Regions from separate parts of the Homo sapiens genome. Here regions 2, 3 and 4 are each linked to region 1. The links come from fine-mapping of genetic effects on gene expression. A gene starts in region 1. Each other region holds a variant in brackets. All regions are shown on one strand. Distances are between the middles of the regions.

Region 1 (5,151 bases):
TGGATAAGAATGCAGCACTTTTCTATAGTTATTGAACATTGAATATCTGAATAAGCAATACTAGTTTCACATTCAGAATCTTCAGTATTGCTAGTGAAATCCAAAAGCAAAAAGTGCTGAAGTCTTATTTTTATCTAGAGACATCTTGGTGGTGGTCACTATGGCAATGGCAATAAGTTCTTAGATCGTAAGATTTTCAGAAATTTGAATTCTTAGTCATTTTCAGGAAAAAGTTAAATTGAGCAGTTGAGGGTTTTTAAAGCTTTGCACACATGCATGTTAATACAGAAAAATTAATTTTTTAATTAATCAAATTCAAGTTAGCAGCCCTTAAGACATCATAAAAAGGTAGAGTACTGACTCTGTGCAACCAGTCATCACATCTGGAAAAACATGCAATGGGCTGGTCTTAGTGATTCTGAGATATGGAAATCCAAGGAACTGGTCTTCCTAGGATAGTGGAAATTTAGTCACTAAAAACATACCAGCACTTCTTGTAGGTGTTCACAGTCCTATTTTTGCTTGTTTTCAACAACATAACTTTGTCAGCTAAAATGCGGAAACTAGTTTCTCAGCCATCCAAAAATGGTTTAGTCTTTTAACAGGGAGGGAATTAGCATCCACTGACCATCTTATCTATTATGATGGATTTACACACATTCTCACCTAATCCTTACATGTTAACCAAGGACTCCTATCCCAATTTCATTTCTCTTAACTTTTCAGTTTCCTTGTCTATTGTTTTATTTGTACAAGGTCATGGACTTCAACATAGGTATAAATCCTAAAGCCAATGCCTCTCAGAGGGAACAGGAATGATACATTATGGAATAAATTTAATACTCTCCTTCTTTAAAATGGAGAGCTACAACAGTAGGCAGGTCTCTGCTCTCAAACTTTTCAGGCACATTGAAATACAAATGAATATTAAAGAAGCGCTATCAAATCAATGAGCTTGGATTTCAATCTTGCTCTCTTCTGCCTGAGCTTCTAACCTCAGCTAAGTACCCTCATCTCCGTTAACTCTGGTTCCCATAGAAAGAGTGGATAATATCTAGAATTTGAAACTTACTCCTGAAGATAAAGGCTCATGAGAAAATGTATTTGAAGGATTTTAAAAAATACACAGACCTATAACTTCTGCCCTGAGAATGGTGATTTATATTTAGAATGTGGCTAATAACAAGCAGAAAAGGCTGGTACTAGCTATTACTAGAACCAAAGAATTTTAGAGTGGGCAATCTTTTAAAGTAGTAGGCCCTTCTTCCAATTAAAAGATGAGGAAACTACTGGACATGGTGGCTCACACCTGTAATCCCAACACTTTGGAAGGCCGAGGCGAGTGGATCACTTGAGATCAGGAGTTTGAGACCAGCCTGAGCAACATAGTGAAACCCTGTCTTTACTAAAAACACAAAATTAGCTAGGCACGGTGGCTCACGCCTGTAATCCTAGCTACCTGGGAGGCTGAGGCACGAGAATCACTTGAACCGGGGAGGCGGAGGTTGCAGTGAGCTGAGATCATGCCATTGCACTCCAGCTTGGGCAACAAGAGTGAAACTCCATCTTAAAAAAAGAAAAAAAAAAAAAAGAGAAAACTTGAGTTAAATTATTTTATCCAAAGTCATATTGGTACAGGCAGAATAAAGACTACATGTCCAAGAAATAAAACATTTTATGTTTTCTGGAGTGTGCTTCATTTAAGTGAAAATGAACTTTTTGGGTGTGATTTACTGCTCTTTTCAACTTCTGAAGTGGGACTAAATAGAATGAAATATGAAAATCTCAAAACCTAAGTACTCCAGCCGTGACTTAGTAGACGTATTTGTAATATATTTTTGCAACCTCATCTCATAGAACATCACTAAGCAATGGTGATGGTGGTTAAACCAATATATAAATACATTCGTCAAAACTCATCAAATTGAGCACTTCAAACTTATTAATTTTATTGCACATAAATTATATCTCATAAAAAGTAACTTTAAACAATTAGGTGTGGGAATGTAAACTTGCTAAAAGTAAGCTCCTCGAGGAAACACCGCCTTGTTCACGCCCATATCCTACCCCCGGCACTAGCACAATGTTGCTTGTGTAATATGTACTTATGAATGAATATTAGCGCCCCCGAGGCTTAGACTGAACAGGTAAACGTTTAAAAAACGAATCATACGAGGGATACTCTTTTCACCAAGTTATTGATAAAATCCTCGCATCAATTTAAATTCTGGTAACTTTAAACTGCATGTAAAGCAACTGCAGTCAGCATGTGCTGTACTATTTCAGAATGATTGATTTCACAGTGACCCAGATTCCAATATTCACTAGCGCCTTTCACGACCCATGAACCCTTCCTCCCCTAGGGAGCTTGGCATTTATGCAGCCTGCCGGCAGGCTACACCCCCCCGAACGCGGAGTTTTGTGAGCAATCAACGCACTTCACGTGTCTCCTGGGCGGTGGGACCGGAGTTCTGATACAAAGAGGTCGAAGGACCTGACCAAAAGCCCGTCGCACGCCAGTGCCTGGACACCCGCCCGCGGGGACGTGCAAGACCCCCCGGCCCACGCCCCCACGGACACTGGGGAGACATCCGGGGAGCACTGCTAAGCCATCCACCTGTCAGCCTCAAGTCCAGGAGGAAATTCTGTGATAGCTGCTTCGCTGCTTGCAGTCTTAACAACTTAATGATTTCTCGAATCGTGGGCAACGGAGGGAGACGGCAAGTGCTGAGTTTTCCGGAGGCAGCCATGATACGCGGCAAGCACCATCCAACCCTACCTCACCCAGGACCTTCACCGCCGCTCCGAAAGAAACGCGCAGGGGAGGAACCTGCGAGACCTAAGGCCCGCCTCGGAGTCAGCCCCATTGGTCAGACCTATCCCACCGGAAGCGATGACCGCGGACAGGAAATTCCCGGCGTGCTGAGAGCGCATGCGCTAAGTCCTGCCGCGAGAAGGGCAGGCTGGGTGGTCGGCGGCTTCCGCCTGTGAGAGCCGGGGGAGAGCCGGGTGGACTAGGCTTCTCCTGGGCGGGCTATGGGGAGAGCGCCCAGGAGGGCGGGACGAGGCGGGGCCTGGACAGGGTGGGGTTTTTCGGAGGAGTTGCTCTGAGAGGTGCAGCCGGTTTACTCCCGCCCTGAAGTTCCCAAGGGCTTCCGGCTCTTTAACGTTCTAAATACCTGTCTGTGAATATTAGAGGAAAAGCGGGTGCTTAGAGGCAAAGCTACTGTTTGTTAGCAATTCTTTCTTACTGTGAGGCGTTTTTAGAACCGCCGCTCTGCAGATGCTGCATGATGGGTTTTTAACTTCGTTCAGCCTCAGTTTTTTCATCAGTTAAATGGAGCTAATGTCTACCTCAAAATTGTGAGCACTAAATGAGAGAGATCGCCTGGTGTGCACGTTCAGAACATAGTGCACGCATGGCATTGGGTAAGCTCCCACGTGATCAGTGGTGGCTGTTATTATTTGGCAGATGAATAATTGGCCAGTGTAAAGAGGTCATTCGATTTGCTAGGATTACAGCTAAGAACAGAGAGAAGACTGAAATATGAGTTCTGTCTTTCCGTTATACGAGATAAAAACAACGAAGCAAAAAAAAAAAAAAATTAAAGTTTCTCTGATAGGTGGGAGAATTTTGCTGTTTTAACCCTGCTTATGTTTGGACATTGCTGCGTTGATCACAAATGAATTTTAAAGTTTCTGTTCCTCAATTAGTAAGTTTTTAAAAAAGCTAATGGAAAACGAAACAACTATGGGTATGGATATAAAAATGAGGAGTACTTTGAAATTCCAGTGGAAAACTCAACCACCTTCTATAAAAGCTGTTTTAAAAGGAACTGAGATAATCTCCTAGCTTTAAAAAATAGTGATGACTACCATAGAGGTAAGGAGATTTGCCCAACGTGGCATCAAAATGTAGACTGGAAGTACAAACTCTTGATTCAGATATCTTATCGTCCAAAACACAGTATACCTGACAAAGCATTATTTCACAGTTATATTCATTATTTCCCGTACTCCTCACAATGGTCCCATGTGAATGAGATTATTATTCTTAGTTTGCTGTGAAGAAATAGGGGAGGTGAGGTCATTTGACAATGCCCAGAGTCAGACAGCAAAGTACAGAGAGAAGACAACCTGAGTTGTGTTTTTTCTGAGTTCTGATCTCACTGGCCACACTCAAGTATCAGCTTATTATTTTTAAGTTAATATGTGTTAATTTTGTAACATCTAAATATATAGAAATACGAATCTAGGTGTAAACATAAGCTTACAGTTTTCATATGACTATTTAAAACAATTGCAATAAATATATACAAAACCAATACAAATGGTCTTATTAATTGACAAGGATGAACACTGTTAAATCACGACACTTAGTGCTAACTGGCAGGTTTTCTTTTTTTTTTTTTTTTAAGTTTCAGCCTACCAGTGATCCAGTGTGCCATGTAATGACTGAATGTTCTCATTAGTTTTCTGGAGTCAAACTATTACCAAATCTTTGTTCAATTTTTTTTCCATTGTCGCTTGTCTTTCTTTTGGAAGAATATGGAAGCTACATATTAAGTCTGCCTGCATCTGTTTTCAGTAGCTTGGAAACAAGTGAATTTGAATTATTTGGCACTAATGCTACCATGAACACACACGTTGTGTAACAGGTATAAAGAGGATGTTCAGATGACCCCAAATATAATCACATGAGCTTTTTAAAAGATTAACATCAACATAAAAACAAACTAAAATCTAAATGAGTGAAACACCTTTGCGTGGAGAATTTGTAGATTCCTGATAATTTGTCCCCAGATCTAAATATGAATTTATGGATGGTTTATACCATGCCATCTTCAATAACTGAACCTATTTATAAAGCAGCTTCCTTTGTTACTTAATTCTCATTTCAATTCTGTGATGTAGGTTCACAAAGATGTGTCTTAGTTCATTCCTGCTGCTATAACAAAATATCTGAGACTGGGTAATTTATAAAGAACAGAAATGTACTTCTCACAGTACTGGAGGCTGAAAGTCCAAGATCAAGGAGCTGGCAAGTTTGTTGCCTTGTGAAGGCTGCTCTCTTTACCTCAAGATAGCATCTTGTTGCTGCATCCCCCAGAAAAGAGGAATGTCATGTCCTCACATGTCCAAAGGCAGAAG
Region 2 (5,151 bases), 63 kb before region 1:
GAGGTCCAATTAAACCATAGGTGATAAAATTTATGGGGAGAGAGAGGCTTATTAACACTTTAGTATTACTGAATAATAAATACTGAGAAGAGCGTAAATTAAACTGGCTTTTTTTCCATGACAAGCATACTTTGGTATCAAAATCAACAAGAGGAAAGCATTTTTGTATGACAGTTAACTTCTATAAGTAAATAATACAAATTATGTTCAGCATTCATACTATGTAAAAACTTCATTTTGTATTAAGATGATCTTTAGAAGGGTTTGATTTAAAAAACTTCCTTCCAAACTTCCCTCCAGTTAGAATTAAAATGCTGAATTGGGAGAAAAAAAAGTATAAAGAATACTGAATTTAGAAGTGACCTAAAATTTTGCTTTTTGGCTTTTATAAAATAATGTATCTCTCATATTCCCTCGCGGAAAGTTATGAACATATACCATATATAAATGCAAACAATTGTTCTGTCAGTCAGTCATGTACTGGGGTGTTTTTAAGTTCCATTTAAACCTAGATCCGGGTTCCCAGAAGGGCAAGCCAAACTCGAGAGCTGGTGCCCTAAGCCCAGTCAGGCTTGGGTTTGAAGCCTGGCTCCATTCTTGTGTTTTCCTCTCTGGAACTCTGGCAGAATATCCTGCACTCACTTTTCTCATCTGTAAAATGGGATGGTTTAGTCTTTGAGTTATTGCGGGCACTAAATGAGATGATTCACAGAAATCACCTGTCGTGATCCTTGCTAAGTAGAAAGTGCTCCAGAAATGTCAGTTGTTGTTATTAGTGATACTTTTCACTGATACTCTGTCTCATTTCAAAAAGAATTTGAAGTAGGAGATAATTTTGCTGTTCTTCATTCTAAGGGCTGGGCTACAGTGGGCTGTTGTGACTTATTCTGAATGTAATGCTCCTGCTAGTGGGTACTGGTCTGGAATCCTGAGTTGAATCTTGACTCCATTCATTATTACTGTTGGATAGAATCTAAAACAAATAACAGTTATGAAATAAATATGATTTCATATCTTGCAGAAGCACTAAAGGCAATGGAGAAAGTAGCGAGCCACATCAATGAGATGCAGAAGATCTATGAGGATTATGGGACCGTGTTTGACCAGCTAGTAGCTGAGCAGAGCGGAACAGAGAAGGAGGTCCGTGAGACATCTGCACCCTGGGAGCCTAGTGCATGTGGTGTGGGGTCTGTAGGTGACCTTCTAGATAGGCTGCCCTGTTAGGACTTTCCTGGAGGAGAAAATGCCTAAGATTTTTCTTGATAACAATGTGTCTAATGAACTACACAATTTACATATAGACATATCATAAAATTCATTACACTGGTTTAAAATATAACCTTATGTCACGTTCACATTGTCTGGAACATCCATGGAGGGTGAGAGCTGGCAGAGGGTGGGGTGGAGAAAGGACATGGGAACTGGCATGTGGAGTCTGGGGCTTTTCCTTTTTGATTTTGCCTTTTTTTTTTTTTTTTTTTAACATCAAATATTGGTGGTTACCTGCTTACTTATAAAACTAGTCCAAGCAGGATTTGACATTTTCTGTATTTTTCCTTTTTATCTGATTGCTTAATTTAGAATCTTGTGCTTCTCAAGCCAGCATGCAGGAAGTAGCATAGTTTAGGGAGAAAATGGCAGGAACAGGAAAGGACTGGAGATCAGTCCTTCACTCTGGCCAGTTTCAATGCTGGTGCTCTTTTATCAGCAGCCCGAATGGAGCTCAGAGGTGATGGATGTACTAGATCCCAGGGGAAAGCTTACAAAAGGCACTCTGGAAGAACCACGGACACTGGTAGAGTTCATCTTATGGAAACTGAGTTGGTCACAAGGCATGTCTCACCTACATGTGCGTGCACTGGAGCAAAATGCCTTCACCTTTATGTTATTCATCAGACACTTGGGTGCTTAACTCATATTTTCAAAAGCTCCACCGTTTAAGGCCCCATGTTTACAGGTATCATAAAAATTAAACCAGCTGTGCTTGCATTTTAGCAATGACTGTGTGTACATCACTATCTAACAAGAGATCATCTAGCCTGGGATTTCCGTATCTTCCTTACCTCCTGTTTTTACAATCTAGGTAACAGAACTTTCGATGGGAGAGCTTCTGATGCACTCTACGGTTTCCTGGTTGAATCCATTTCTGTCTCTAGGAAAAGCTAGAAAGGACCTTGAGCTCACAGTATTTGGTTAGTATTCCATTCAGAAGAATGCAGACTGAACAGAGGCTGGGATTACGGAAGAACTTCACTAGCCGCACCAGT[C/T]CAGCTCACTCCTGAGCTCCAGGAGTCAGAATTGCTATAATGGTTGGGGACTTAACAGGGCCAGCCCCCAACTATTTGAAACTCCGGCATCGCTCTGCATCCTCATTATCTTGTTCTCCCTTCTGCTGCTTGGCTCAGGCCAAGTGTTACAGGAACAGATCCCTGCGGCTATTTTGAAACCTGCTATCTTTTTCTTTTTCTTTTTCTGAGACGAGGTTTTGCTCTTGTTGCCCAGGCTGGAGTGCAATGGTGTGATCTCTGCTCACTGCAACCTCCACCTCCCAGGTTCAAGCTATTCCCCTGCCTAAGCCTCCTGAGTAGCTGGGATTACAGGTGCTCGCCACCACGCCCGGCTGATTTTTGTATTTTTAGTAGAGATGGGGTTTCACCATGCTGGCCAGACTGGTCTCGAACTCCTGACCTCAGGTGATCCACCTGCCTCAGCCTCCTGGAGTGCTGGGATTACAGGCATTAGCCACCGTGCCTGGCCAGAAACCTGCTATCTTAATAGTCTGCTGTATTTCAAATGTTTTAATTCTGAGAGTTGGGAGAACAAGTGACAGTATATTGTCACTGAGATGAACACAGTGTCCTCAGCTTTCAATAAAACAAAGAGTTTAAAAAAGCCAAGATCAACTTCTAATAGTAGCTTTTAAATAAGCAGGTGCTTCTGCATAGTTCAAATATGAGCGAAAGGGAAGTACCATTTATTCACTCATGTTGGCAGAGTGAGGTCTTAGAGACTCATACGTTTGGAGAGTGTTACTCTGTTAAGACGTTCAGCTCTAGTTTAACCTTGGAAGAGTTTGCATAAAATAAAGACTTTCTTTCTCTTTTCCTTTCTTTAGTTTTTAAGAGAGCCGTCATACTGGTTTATAAAGAAAACTGCAAACTGAAAAAGAAATTGGTAAGGCAAAAATTCATTTTAATTTAAGCTACCTTTTCATAGCTGTATCTTCCTATTAACGTTGAACTGAAAAGCCCACTGAGCACCAAGGCTGGGCTGACTGATACTGCTTACTCTGAGGGTAACTAACCCCATCACATACTGAGAGCGTTTCTGAGTCTCCCCATGAAAGATGTCTGTTTTAAAAGAAGATATACAGCTGGGCACGGTGGCTCATGCCTGTAATCTCAGCACTTTGGGAGGCTGAGGCTTGAGCCCAGGAATTTGAGACCAGCCTGGCCAACATGGTGAAACCCTGCCTCTACCAAAAATACAAGTAACTGGGTGTGGTAGCACGTGCCTGTAGTCCCAGCTACTCGGGAGGCTGAGGCAGGAGGATCAATTGAGCCCAGGAGGTGGAAGCTGCAGTGAGCCTTGATCATGCCACTGCATTCCAGCCTGTGCGACAGAGTGAGACCCTGTCAATAAATACATAAATAAGTAAATAAAGTAGATAAATACTCATATGGGGGCCTACATAGAACATCGACTTTTATATCCCTGAAAATGGCCCATGTTTGTTCCATAAACATAGTCTGTGAAACTTTGGTTTATTTTCAAATGCCTTTTACCTTCACTCAGAAAAAAGCAAAGCCTAGCTGTGGATACCATATGCCATTGGTTTACCATTCAGAGGCAGCGTCAGGGCGTGGAAGCTTTGGCTGCTGTTCTTGCTTTGAGACCTGTAACTGCTTCTGAACCACAACTCTGCCTCCGCACCTTCCCTAGCATGTGAGGTCTTTGAGAACTGGGTGCGTAGCTGATTGACTTCTGTGCCCTGAACACCCACATGGCTGCTCGGAGACTCGCCCACAGGGAGAACATAAACTTCTATTCACTGTGCACACATCCTCCCTCAGTGACAGCTTCCCTAACACTTTTCTTGGTGGGCCTTCATGTTACAGCCCTCGAATTCCCGGCCTGCACACAACTCTACTGACTTGGACCCATTTAAATTCCGCTGGTTGATCCCCATCTCCGCGCTTCAAGTCAGACTGGGGAATCCAGCAGGTAACTGTTTCGTGCAGTATGATGCCAGAAAAAGCATTTTAGTAGACTTAACTGTGGAATGTAAATTAAGAAAGGACCTTGGGGATAATTTTTGGTGCCTTTTATTTTATAGACAAGGAAAATGAGGACAAGAGAGGTTGTTTTGATGTTCCTTAGCAGACTTCTGGGAGAAACTAAATGCTGGTGGATAGCTTTTTCTTTGCCAAATGCCTTTCATTGTTTCCTTATTTTCCCTATCAATAGTTTTCAACATTTTCCTTTCTGCCTTGATACCCTAAAATGTGTTAGAAGAACAAAGATCCACAAATTTATGTTTTTACAAATTTAGAATATAGCAGAAAATTCCTTAAGGTTAGGTAGTACTGTAGGTGATATAAAAAGAAAAAAATCTTTGACTCTGGAAAATGTTCAGAGATCCTTCCAGAGTAACCTTGTTTTGGTGACAGGTATCTGGTGACAGAAGAGGCCAGCAGGCTGAGTCATGCAGTGACCTGCTGGGCTTCTGTTTAACTTTTGTCAGAAGTGCTTATGTTTTCGAGAAAATGACCACATTTGGGGCAGGCCTCTTTTACCTCAAGTACCCCAGCTCCTGTTCCTTCCAAGGAAAGGGCAAAACTGCAAAGGAGGTTGAAGAATAGGATCCACTGAATCTCCTCTTCCCCAGAGAGGGGCTCCAGAGAGAGGGTGAAGGCAGTTCAGATGGAGGAAAATCTGCAGCAGGAAATGTAAAAAGTAACCAAAAGGCATTTCAGTTCTTGTAACTGTGAAAATCATACATAGAACAAGCCACAGAAGAAAATGAGCCAGGACTGGGAATATTAGACTTTCTTAACTGATGAGATTTCAACTTTACAAGTGTTCTTAACCACAGCATTTTGGGCAAAGTTGTAGACTCTTGTTTCCATTTCCTTTTACATAGGGACAGAA
Region 3 (5,151 bases), 78 kb before region 1:
CGTCTGCCTGAATTCAGAGCTCTTGAGTGGGATGCTCCTCATCTATAAATAAGATAAAATCATTTTCAAGCAGGGATCAACCTTAGTATAACATTAAAAACCTGAACTAAAGGCCCGGCATGGTGGCTCACGCCTATAATCCCAGCAGTTTGGTGGGAGGATCGCTGGAGTTCAGGAGTTTGAGACCAGCCTGGGCAACATAGTGAGACCCTCCCTTCTCTACTAAAAATCAAAAGAATTAGCTGGGTATGGTGGCATGCGCCTGGAGTTCCAGCTGCTTAGGAGGCTGAGGTGGGAGGGTTGCTTAATTTCAGGAGTTTGAGGCTGCAGTGAGCTATGATTGTACCACAGCACTCCAGCCTGGGTGGCAGAGTGAGACCCTGTCTCAAAAAAACAAAACAAAAACAATTTGAGAGAAAATTTTTTTTGGGGGGGGGTTGGGGTTCAATATCATTGCTTTTCCAGATAGCATAATTTTTGGAAAAAATGTTTTTATTTAATCTTTTTATGACTTCTTAAAGAAAATATTGGTTTCATGCTCTTTTATGAAAGCTGAGGCCTGTGATGGACCCAAGTTTGTAGCATTGATTGCTACAAACTGGAAAAAACCAATCTGAGGCCCCCATTTCAAGTGCCCGTGTTTTTTATTCTGCATATGCACATCCTGTTAGGCCACTGAATCCTCACACTCCCAGCCCTAAGTTATGATCATCTGTCTTTTGCTTTTATTTATTTACTTTTAGAGATAGAGCCTCACTCTGTCACTCAGTGGTGTCATCATAACTCACTGTAACCTTGAACTCCTGCCTCAGCATCGTTAGTGGCTGGGACCACAGGCATGTGCCACCACAGCCAGCTAATCTTTTTATCTTTTGTAAAGATGGGTTTCCCTATGTTGTCCAGGATAGTCTTGACCTCCTGGGCTCAAGCCATCCTCCTGACTTAGCCTTCTGAGTAGCTGGGACCATAGGCGTGTGCCACCATGGCCGGCTAATTTTTTTTTATCTTTTGTAGCGATGGGTTTCCCTTATGTTGTTCAGGCTGGTCTTGAACTCCTGGGCTCAAGTGATCCACCTGCCTCATTCTCCTAAAGTGTTGGGATTACAGGCATGAGCCACTGTGCCAGACCAGTCTTTTGCTTTTAAAGCAGCATTCCTGGGGTGGGGGTGGAATAGGCTCAATAGATGTCCCAGTTGTCTGCATATGAGCTGTTTCTGCCTCTCTAAGCAGAGGTGGTCTCCAGAGGCAGGTGGCTGCATCCCTAGAACACCTGGGGCCAGGAGAGCCCTGACCACATGGGAGGCAGAGGCAGCAGGAGGCGTGAGGAACTAGATTGCTTTGCCTGTGCTCTGCTAAATACCTGGGAGTGGCAGGGGCTGTGCGGACAGCTAGAGAGGGGAACAGAGCTAGAGACGGAGCACAGCTAGAGATGGAGCACAGCTAGAGACAGAGCACAGCTAGAGAGGGGAACAGAGCTAGAGATGGAGCAGAGCTAGAGAGGGGAACGGGCCCTGTGCCATTTAAGGTCTCGCTGAAGCCTCCTTGCCCCTCAGCTGGAAAGCCCTGGAGAGTCATGGTAAAGCTGCAATGCTGGCATGTTCTGTGAGAAACCTCCCAACTGTGCCTTGTGCACAGCAGCTGCTCGGCAAACACGAGTTTCCTTTTCTTCTTGACCCAAACGGCAATTTTAGCAGTTACTTGATGGAATAGGCATTCCTGCTGCCTTTTCATCAGGAAGGACACTGAAGACTTAGAATCGAGACTTGCCCAGGAGTGCACAGAAGGCTGGGGGTTGAGCCTGGACTGCAGCCCAGGCCTTCTGACTCTCATCTGTGCTTTTCAGGCCTATCACCATATATGCATGTGAAGATATCCCAGCCCAGATAATCACTATTCCTATAAAGTGCTGATCAGGTTCACCCAGAATGTCCCTCTAATGTTTGTAAACATCACGAACAGTGGGTGAACTGAAATGTAATCACCCAAGTGACTCCTTCAGCTACAATCTGAAAAGACACACTTATAATTACTCTTCTCCTTTTGGGGGCCCTGCCTCCTTTTGGTCCCAAGTAATCCTCACCAACTCC[C/T]TTAGACAACAGCTAAAATGTTAAGTGTACAAAAGGTGGCTTTCTAGCACTTGAACACTTAATTGTGGTACTTTAAGAAGTAAATCTGCTATGAAAAATCTCAGCTAACATTCACTTTTTGGGAGTTAATCTTACCAGAAAAGTTCATAAAGTGAATTCTGTTTTTCTAAAATGGCAAGATACTTTATTTGTAAGATCTCGTTACTTTAACACTGCATTGTTAGGTGTGATTTTTGACATCCCAGTGAAGCAAAGCCATAATCTCACCAGATGCCATTTAACTTATGATGTATTTTATCAGATCTTATTTTATACAGTATATTCAAGCTTAATATAGATTCTATAGCCCTGGGAACTGTTAGTTTTCAGGACTGCAGAATTATATTGTCTGAGCTTGTGGTGCAAATCCCAGTACAGAGATTTCAAATCAGTGAGTCTTGGAGTCCGAGTATTATCATCGTGAACATTTTAGCTCACTTCATAGGAGGCCACAACCAGAACACCAGAGTCATGGCTGTGATTCCGTCAATTTCCTGTAGCCCGTGAGCTCTGTCCACATACCTCAGTGGGGACCCTGGGACAGGTGATCCCACTGGAGCCAGCACCACTCCCAGAAATCCAAGCAGAACGCGAGCTGTATGAAGAGTAGACCAGCAGTTCTCATGCAGGCCACACATTAGCAACACCTGGGGGAGTTTTTTTAAGAAACACCCATGACAGCCAGGCATGGTGGCTCATGCCTGTAATCCCAGCACTTTGGGAGGCTGAGGTGGGCAGATCACCTGAGGTCAGGAGTTTAAGACCAGCCTGGCCAACATGGCAAAACCCCATCTCTACTAAAAATACAAAAATTAGCCAGGTGTGGTGGTGGGCACTTGTAATCCCAGCTACTTGGGAGGCTGAGGCAGGAGAATTGCTTGCACCCGGGAGGCAGAGGTTGCAGTGAGCTGAGATCGTGCCACTGCACTCCAGCCTGGGTGACAGAGCAAGACTCTGTCTCAAAAAAATAAAATAAAAGAGCAAGTCATATCTTACGTGGATGGCAGCAGGCAAAGAGAGCTTGTGCAGAGAAACTCCTGTTTTTAAAATCATCAGATCTTGTGAGATCTATTCACTATTACAAGAACAGCATGGGAAAGGCCCACCCCCATGATTCAATCATCTCCCACTGGGCCCCTCCCACAATACATGAGAATTATTTATGGGAGCTACAAGATGGGATTTAGGTGGGGACACAGAGCCAAACCATACCATTTTGCCCTGGCCCCTCCCAAATCTCATATCTTCACATTTGAAAACCAATCATGCCTTCCCAACAGTCCCCCAAAGTCTCAACTCATTTCAGCATTAACTGAAAGGTCTACAGTCTAAAATCTCATCCCAGAGAAGGCAAGTCCCTTCCACCTATGAGCCTGTAAAATCAAAAGCAAGTTAGTTACTTTCTAGATACAATGGGGGTACAGGCATTGGGTAAATACAGCCATTCCAAATGGGAGAAATTGGCCAAAATAAAGGGGCTCCAGGCCCCATGCAATTCCGAAATCCAGCAGGACAGTGAAATCTTAAAGCTCCAAAATGATCTCCTTTGACTCCATGTCTCACATCCAGGTCACACTGATGCAAGAGGTGGGTTCTCATGGTCTTGGGTAGCTCTGTCCCTGTGGCTTTAAAGGATATAGCCTCCCTCCTGGCTGCCTTCACAGGCTGGTGTTGAGTATCTACAGCTTTGCCAGGCACAGGGTGCAAGATGTCAGTGGATCTGGGCTCTGGAGGATGGTGGCCCTCTTCTCACAACTCCACTAGGCGGTGCCCCAGTAGGGACTCTGTGTGGGGCTCCAACCCCACATTTCCCTTCTGCACTGCCCTAGTGGAGGTTCTCCATGAGAGCCCTGCCCCTGCAGCAAACTTCTGCCTGGACATCCAGGCATTTCCATACATTCTCTGAAATCTAGGTGGAGGTTCTGAAACCCCAATTCTTGGACTTATGTGCACTGGCAGGCTCAACACCACATGGAAGCTGTCAAGGCTTGAGACTTGCACCCTCTGAAGCCATGGCTCAAGCTCTGTGTTGGCTCCTTTCAGCCATGGTTGGAGTGGCTGGGACTCAGGGCACCAATTCCCTGGGCGGAACACAGCATGGGGACCCTGGGCTTGGCCCAGGAAACCACTTTTTCCTCCTAGGCCTCCAGGCCTGTGATGGGAAGGGCTGCCAAGACCTCTGACATGCCCTGGAGACATTTTCATCATTGTCTTGGGGATTAACATTCAGTCCCTCTTTACTTATGCAAATGTCTGCAGCCAGCTTAGATTTCTCTTCAGAAAATGGGATTTTCTTTGCTATTGCATTGTCAGGCTACAAATTTTCCAAAGTTTTATGCTCTGCCTCCTCTATAAGGCTGAATGCCTTTACCAGCACTCAAGTCACATCTTGAATGCTTTGCTGTTTAGAAATTTCTTCTCCCAGATACCTTAAATCATCTCTCAAGTTCAAAGTTCCACAGATCTCTAGGGCAGGGGCAAAATGCCGCCAAGCTGTTGGCTAAAACATAACAAGGGTCAGCTTTGCTCCAGTTCCCAACAAGTTCCTCATCTCCATCTGAGACCACCTCAGCCTGGACCTTATTATTCATTTCACTATCAGCATCTTTGTCAAACCCATTCAACAAGTCTCTAGGAAGTTCCAAACTTTTCCACACTTTCCTGTCTTCTTCTGAGCCCTCCAAACTGTTCCAACCTCTGCCTGTTACCCAGCTCTGAAGTTGCCTCCACGTTTTCAGTTATGTTTTCAGCAGTGCCCCCGACTCAAAAGAGAAGCGATTCTACTGAAGGAGCTCAGCCATCTGGGAGTTCCCATGGCAGACATCTGTTAGGGTCTCACCCTTACTTGCCCCTTGAGGTAGGCCTGGAACGTTACTGGGCTCCTTTTCCCACTGCACCTTTGGCACATTCTCTGGTTCTCCCTTGGAGCAGGCTCCCTCCAGGACATGTTACAACCCTTTCACCGAAGCCTTCCTGGACAACCGATTCTAAAATGCTGCCTCTATTCATTTAATGTTTATTATAA
Region 4 (5,151 bases), 52 kb before region 1:
ACAAGTGGCAGGCTGAGGCTCCAGCTTCTGCCATCTGGCATCCTCAGCAATGGGCTTTGTGGACTGCAGCACTCTTAGGAGCTGATGCCCAGCTGGCCCCTAAAATAATCTGCTGTCATTTCATATGCTAAAGGGACACTTCGGACCTTGTGAAAGAGAGAATTACAATGAAGCCATGTGAGGAGGTTTTAGAAAATGAGAAATATGTGCCTCTCACGCCGAGCCTCTTTAAACAGCGGACTATGGATAGATTATCGTAGATGGAAATCTTTTACAAATACACTTTCCTGCCTTCTTAAGCAGACTATCACTGGGCTTAACTAAACAGCTTCTTGGCTCTTTCTGGATCTGCAACAAGGCTGTGGTCCTTCAGAGCCCATCGAGGTGGGCGACCTCTAGACCACCAGGCCCTGTCAGGTTTTCCCAGTGATTCCTGAGAGCCTCTTGGCAGCAGCAGCTTTCTGTGAGATGGAAACGTGCTTACGTGAGGACTTCGTGATATGATTTTGGCTGCTCAGAAGTCATATTTGCTTCCTAGTTCTCAAGTGTGTCCTTAAAGAAGAGATAGGGCAACTCGGTAGAAAGCAAGCATTTAAAAAACCCATTATTATCTGTCTTGAGTCCTCACTGGGGAACCACGAGCTCCCTGGTACAGAGCCTCTGTGAGCTGTGCAGTCACCAACTCCAGGCTGCGCTTATGTTTAAGCCACCCTGAGAGAGGCCACCTGAGGTCTAGCAAGTCTTTGCTCTCTCCTCATTGGCAGTGAAGTCTTGTCCGTCACAGGCCTGAACTAAGTGTAATACTCAGAGCTTTAAGAATAGAGCAAACAAGGTTCTCACTCTTAAAAAGTGCCTGAGGATTTTATAAAGACTGCAACTGAAGAGAAGAAAAGGCATTCTTACCTGAGCCCTCGATGGCAGTATTTCCTTCGGAACTGAAATACATTCTGAACCACTTTTTCCACCAGCTTGAATGGCTGCTCTATCTTGGGCTGTATCAAGGGAGTGAAGTGCACCACGCCCACGTCCACCTTCGTTGTAAGCAAACATATTATCATTCTGTGGCATGATATGTGGCATAGTGTGATCAATCAACTCATCCTTGTAAAACAGGAGGATGGGCTGTCAACAGCCTGTTTTCATAAACAGACCTTTCCACGTACTTCGGTTTCATCTCTAGGCATGGAAGATGGTACATTCTGGATTCGCAAATGACATGGAGAAATCAGCCGGCTGCACCTGTTCTCTAATGACATCCACCAGACCTGTGCTTGATGGTCACTTAATTTTAAAACACAGTTTCACAATGGCTTAAAAATCAATCCAAATCATTAAAGTCAGTCAGCAGATAATAGATGGCATTAGAATATTTTAGTTTTTGAATGAGGAAAAAAATAAGCCGCAGCAGCAGCTTCAAGACACAGAGAGATGGCAGACAGGCCCCCAGGGACCACTCAGTGCTAAACTTCCCAGATAGAGACACCACTTATTTTCGGTAGACACTGATTAATCAGCTGGACTGAATTCATGAGTGTAGTCTGAAAAGCCACAGAACTTTCTAGTAGCAATTTTAAATGCCCCGAAAGGCATAGGCAGGACTGAAATTGAAAATGGAAACCATCAAAAAATGTCACTGTTTGATAGTGTTTAAGCTACTGCCAGCTGTGGAGATTCTTTAATTGTCAGAAGATAAAACTTTTCAGGCATATCTTATAAGAGATTTATACCCTGATTTGTTCCAAAAATGGACTCATGGTGATTCACAAGGACAAATTCAAATACCAAAGGAAAAACATTTAAAGACAGAGGGAAATGGATTCAAAACAGTAACTACACACACAAAAATGCTAACGGAGACCATGGTCTAGGAAATGGGAAGTCTCGTCATAATTGACAAAAGCCTCAGTCTCCAGGAATTGTTAAACTTGTTAATGAGGATCTCATACAGACTCAACAAAAGGCGAAGAAAGTACGGCAATTTAGGAGGTGTGGGCTGCACCACTGCTTTTCAAAAGGAACTCCATTGTTGAAATCCCATAGAGGTTGTCATTTTCTCCTAAGAGGACTTGCTTCTAAAGATCCTTGTGGCTACATAATTCCTTAAACAGATGAAAATGGGAGACTGGCTTTTCTGGTTGTGTTTCTTTTAGGGTAGAAGGAAAACAACTGAATATGATGTGAGACTTTATGGACAAGAAAGTGAAAATAAGCTGTGCTCAGCCTCACACAGCCTGACGCGCTTGTGGGAGGTGCCTGTGGTGCCTGAGCTGTGTCATCAAGGCCCCGGACCCCTGAGAGCTTGCACCTCCCTATTTAAACAATCAATGAGCCTGTCCCCGAAGGTTTCAGGTCAGCTACAGCTGCTCCTACTGGATGGAATGGGAAATAGAAGGCTTTGGTGGTAAGGGGCGGTGTGGGCTGGCGCATGCTGAGAATGTGCCAAG[C/G]GGCCTTTCCACACCCCAAATGCCCACCCCCAACATCCATCAGCCTTCTTGTGAAGTCCAGCAGGCTGTTCTTGTGAAGATTCTATGGTGGAACAGTAGTTATGAACAGTGACTTAACTAAGATGTCAAATGCTCTTAATAAATTTTAGTAAGTTTTTTGAATTGTGTGCTATATGTTGTTTCATGTTTCCTCAAGTTTAGTAACAACTACCTCTTCCTACAGGACTTCCCTTAGACTTTAACAAAACGCACCATAGAACAGTGCCCAGCTTGGAGAGGTCTGTGGTCATCAGGGAAAGAGGGACTGAAGAAGACAAGGGGCTGTGGAGTGGATGCAGGGTGTAGGTGGGGTAGATGTACTGCTATAGGGAGAGAAGAAAGGTGGTTTCAGCTCAGGGCAGTTCTGGGGAAGGAAAAAGAAGACCTGATCTATGAATGGCAGAGTGCAGGCAGCAGCCCAAGACACACTCCACTGACTTCAGATGTCAGGTTCCTTCCCACAAACTCTGAACTATCCTGCCTACCTCGCCTCCTCCTGATTTGTATAGAGAAGTGGTCCCAACTGTCAGGCATGTGTCTGGCCACTCTCTACACCTCGCCAGCCTTCTCTCACTGGACTCTCCATTTCCCTTTCATCCCCTGAGCTTCCTGGCACCCTTGTCCCTGCCTCCCGTTCTCCAGGACTCATCTCCTGTAACCCTTCAACTCCAGTTCTCCCAGTGACAAAGAGCCAATTCTATCAATTCTTACTAGCAGCCTGCTAGTCTCCAGAAGAAATACTCTTAGCAAAATCTGAGATAAAATCTAATCCCTGCCTAGGCCTAAAACCATGAAATATTATCAAAACTCTACATAAGGCTTACAAACTATTAAGACCAAAAGCACAAATACAGAGATAGATGCACTCTCTTCCAGTACAGAAACTGCCACTTTCAGCTTCCTTAGATTTTAAATTTTGGCCTCATCTTTATTTGCCTGATTTCATTCCTTTGAGATATAGTTGGTATTTGCAAATACAGGAAGTGTCTAACTTTTGCTTGATTTAAATAAAGTTTTAAAACCCTGAACAAATATAGTAGTACCCCATGTAAACTATAGCGTCGACTTCTAAAGTTTGAATACAATTCCAATACTCTGTTAAGTTGGCTTATATTATGTCACGGCTAAAAGAGAATTCCCCTCACAAATGCAGTTACTATTTAGTGGGAGATTCTGTAAAACTCAGCGTCAACAAAGCTCTTCCAGTTATGTCTCCTGCTTCTGGGACGGCCAGGACCTCTCCTGTACCACCCCTTCCTCTCCCTTTCCCCCAAAGGCACCTTTCAGAATTACTCTGAATGATGGAGCCCATTTTTTTCTAGAACTATAGGAAAGCTGCTTGGTAACTATGGTAACGAATACAAAAATGTTTTTTACTTATAATTGAATGCTTATTTAAAATTACAAGTATTATTTTTTCTTCCTTGAGTTTTAAGTCTATTAATGGGTTTGATTACAAAAAAGAAATCAGTACAAAGGCATCAGAAGTACTTAAAATATTCTAGTTTAATGCCGCCAGCCTTTTCCAAACTCAGTCCATCAGTATACCAAAATGACCTACTAAAATTTCAAATGAAAGGATTTAAAATGAATTTAAATATTTGCCTTTCTAACCCTATACGTCAACGCTGTAACAAGCTAAGACTGTTTCTCAGTGTTAGCAGCCTTGGCCATAACAGGCCCGAGGCAGATGTCCTAGTTTCCAGGCCAGGGTGTCTAGGACGTGACTGGTTATCAGCTCAGAGCAGCACTTGGAACTCACAAGGGACCCGGGCTAAGGAGATATTAAATCTTAAATCTTAGATATTAGATATTACAACTGAGAACTGTAATCAACATGATATACAGAGGACACTGAAGAGACGTACAACTCAGTTCCTGATGATTATCATATGCCCAAAAGCTAAGTCACGACCACATGCACAGACACAGAAACAATGCTGGCCACTGTCTACAAAAGGGTCTTCATTCAACACTCTCACGGTGTTCAAGACCATTAGAGGACAAGATAGTGGAGATGAAAAAATGATGAGGAAGTTACTATGTAAATAGCCAAGACACAGCCATAACTTAAGACAACAGAAGGGCTAGTGAAAAAAAAAAAAAAGACCACAGGGAATAATCAGTAAGACTTTAAAGAACAACATATAAGAAGGATTCAAAGTTCGAAGTGGGATGATCACGGGCAGACCTGGGTGGTTGGGAACAGGAAGCATATGGCATCTTGCAGGCTATAGGCACCACAAAATGGAACGCAGGAGGACAGGGGCTTGGGAGAGCCACTTCACTGTCGGGTAAAACAACGGAGCAAGATGAGTGCCTCCGGATGCTTGGTTTCCCCACCCTCCAGTGTCTGCTTGCTCTTCAAGTACCTCCACCAAGCTAATGACAGTCCACTTTAGGACATCACGGGCCTCGAGGTTACAACTTTCCCAGGTAAGGAGAATCCCAGGTAGAGGCAGCAAGTCACTGATGCCTGTGATATGATAATTATGCATGTCATAGAAAAAGAAAATACTGACAAATGTGAATGTAGATCACATTTTCTGGAATTGGTTCACTCTACCTGTGATCCATGTCCAAAAGCCAATTTAAGGAAAGAATTTCCACTGTAAAACCTTAAAGCTGACAGCATTCTAAGTATTTCAAACCAACTGGTTCAATAAAG

The links.
Region 2: its variant is fine-mapped to the expression of TFB1M in testis (GTEx, PIP above 0.99). The same link has a PIP of 0.9 or more in whole blood.
Region 3: its variant is fine-mapped to the expression of TFB1M in skeletal muscle (GTEx, PIP 0.93).
Region 4: its variant is fine-mapped to the expression of TFB1M in whole blood (TOPMed, PIP above 0.99).

Annotation. Positions count from the first base shown.
Region 1 is chr6:155,311,679-155,316,829 of GRCh38, forward strand. It overlaps TFB1M (transcription factor B1, mitochondrial), which reads right to left and starts at 2,806. Exons shown (of 7, transcript NM_016020.4): 1 at 2,618-2,806. The coding sequence starts at 2,750. RefSeq lists enhancers at 2,581-2,900, 2,899-3,889, 2,971-3,020, 3,571-3,620 and a silencer at 3,071-3,150.
Region 2 is chr6:155,248,830-155,253,980 of GRCh38, forward strand. It overlaps TIAM2 (TIAM Rac1 associated GEF 2), which reads left to right. Exons shown (of 27, transcript NM_012454.4): 21 at 1,022-1,140; 22 at 2,084-2,192; 23 at 3,116-3,174; 24 at 4,119-4,224; 25 at 5,144-5,151. It also overlaps a transcript of TFB1M not described here. Among named protein-coding and RNA genes, the nearest start is that of CLDN20, 13 kb to the right of the region's middle. RefSeq lists an enhancer at 4,954-5,151. The variant C/T (reference allele first, on the strand shown) is at 2,268.
Region 3 is chr6:155,233,576-155,238,726 of GRCh38, forward strand. All of the region lies in intron 15 of TIAM2 (TIAM Rac1 associated GEF 2), which reads left to right. It also overlaps a transcript of TFB1M not described here. Among named protein-coding and RNA genes, the nearest start is that of CLDN20, 28 kb to the right of the region's middle. The variant C/T (reference allele first, on the strand shown) is at 2,088.
Region 4 is chr6:155,259,370-155,264,520 of GRCh38, forward strand. It overlaps TFB1M (transcription factor B1, mitochondrial), which reads right to left. Exons shown (of 7, transcript NM_016020.4): 6 at 904-1,031. CLDN20 (claudin 20) reads left to right here and starts at 4,644. Exons shown (of 2, transcript NM_001001346.3): 1 at 4,644-4,919. The variant C/G (reference allele first, on the strand shown) is at 2,445.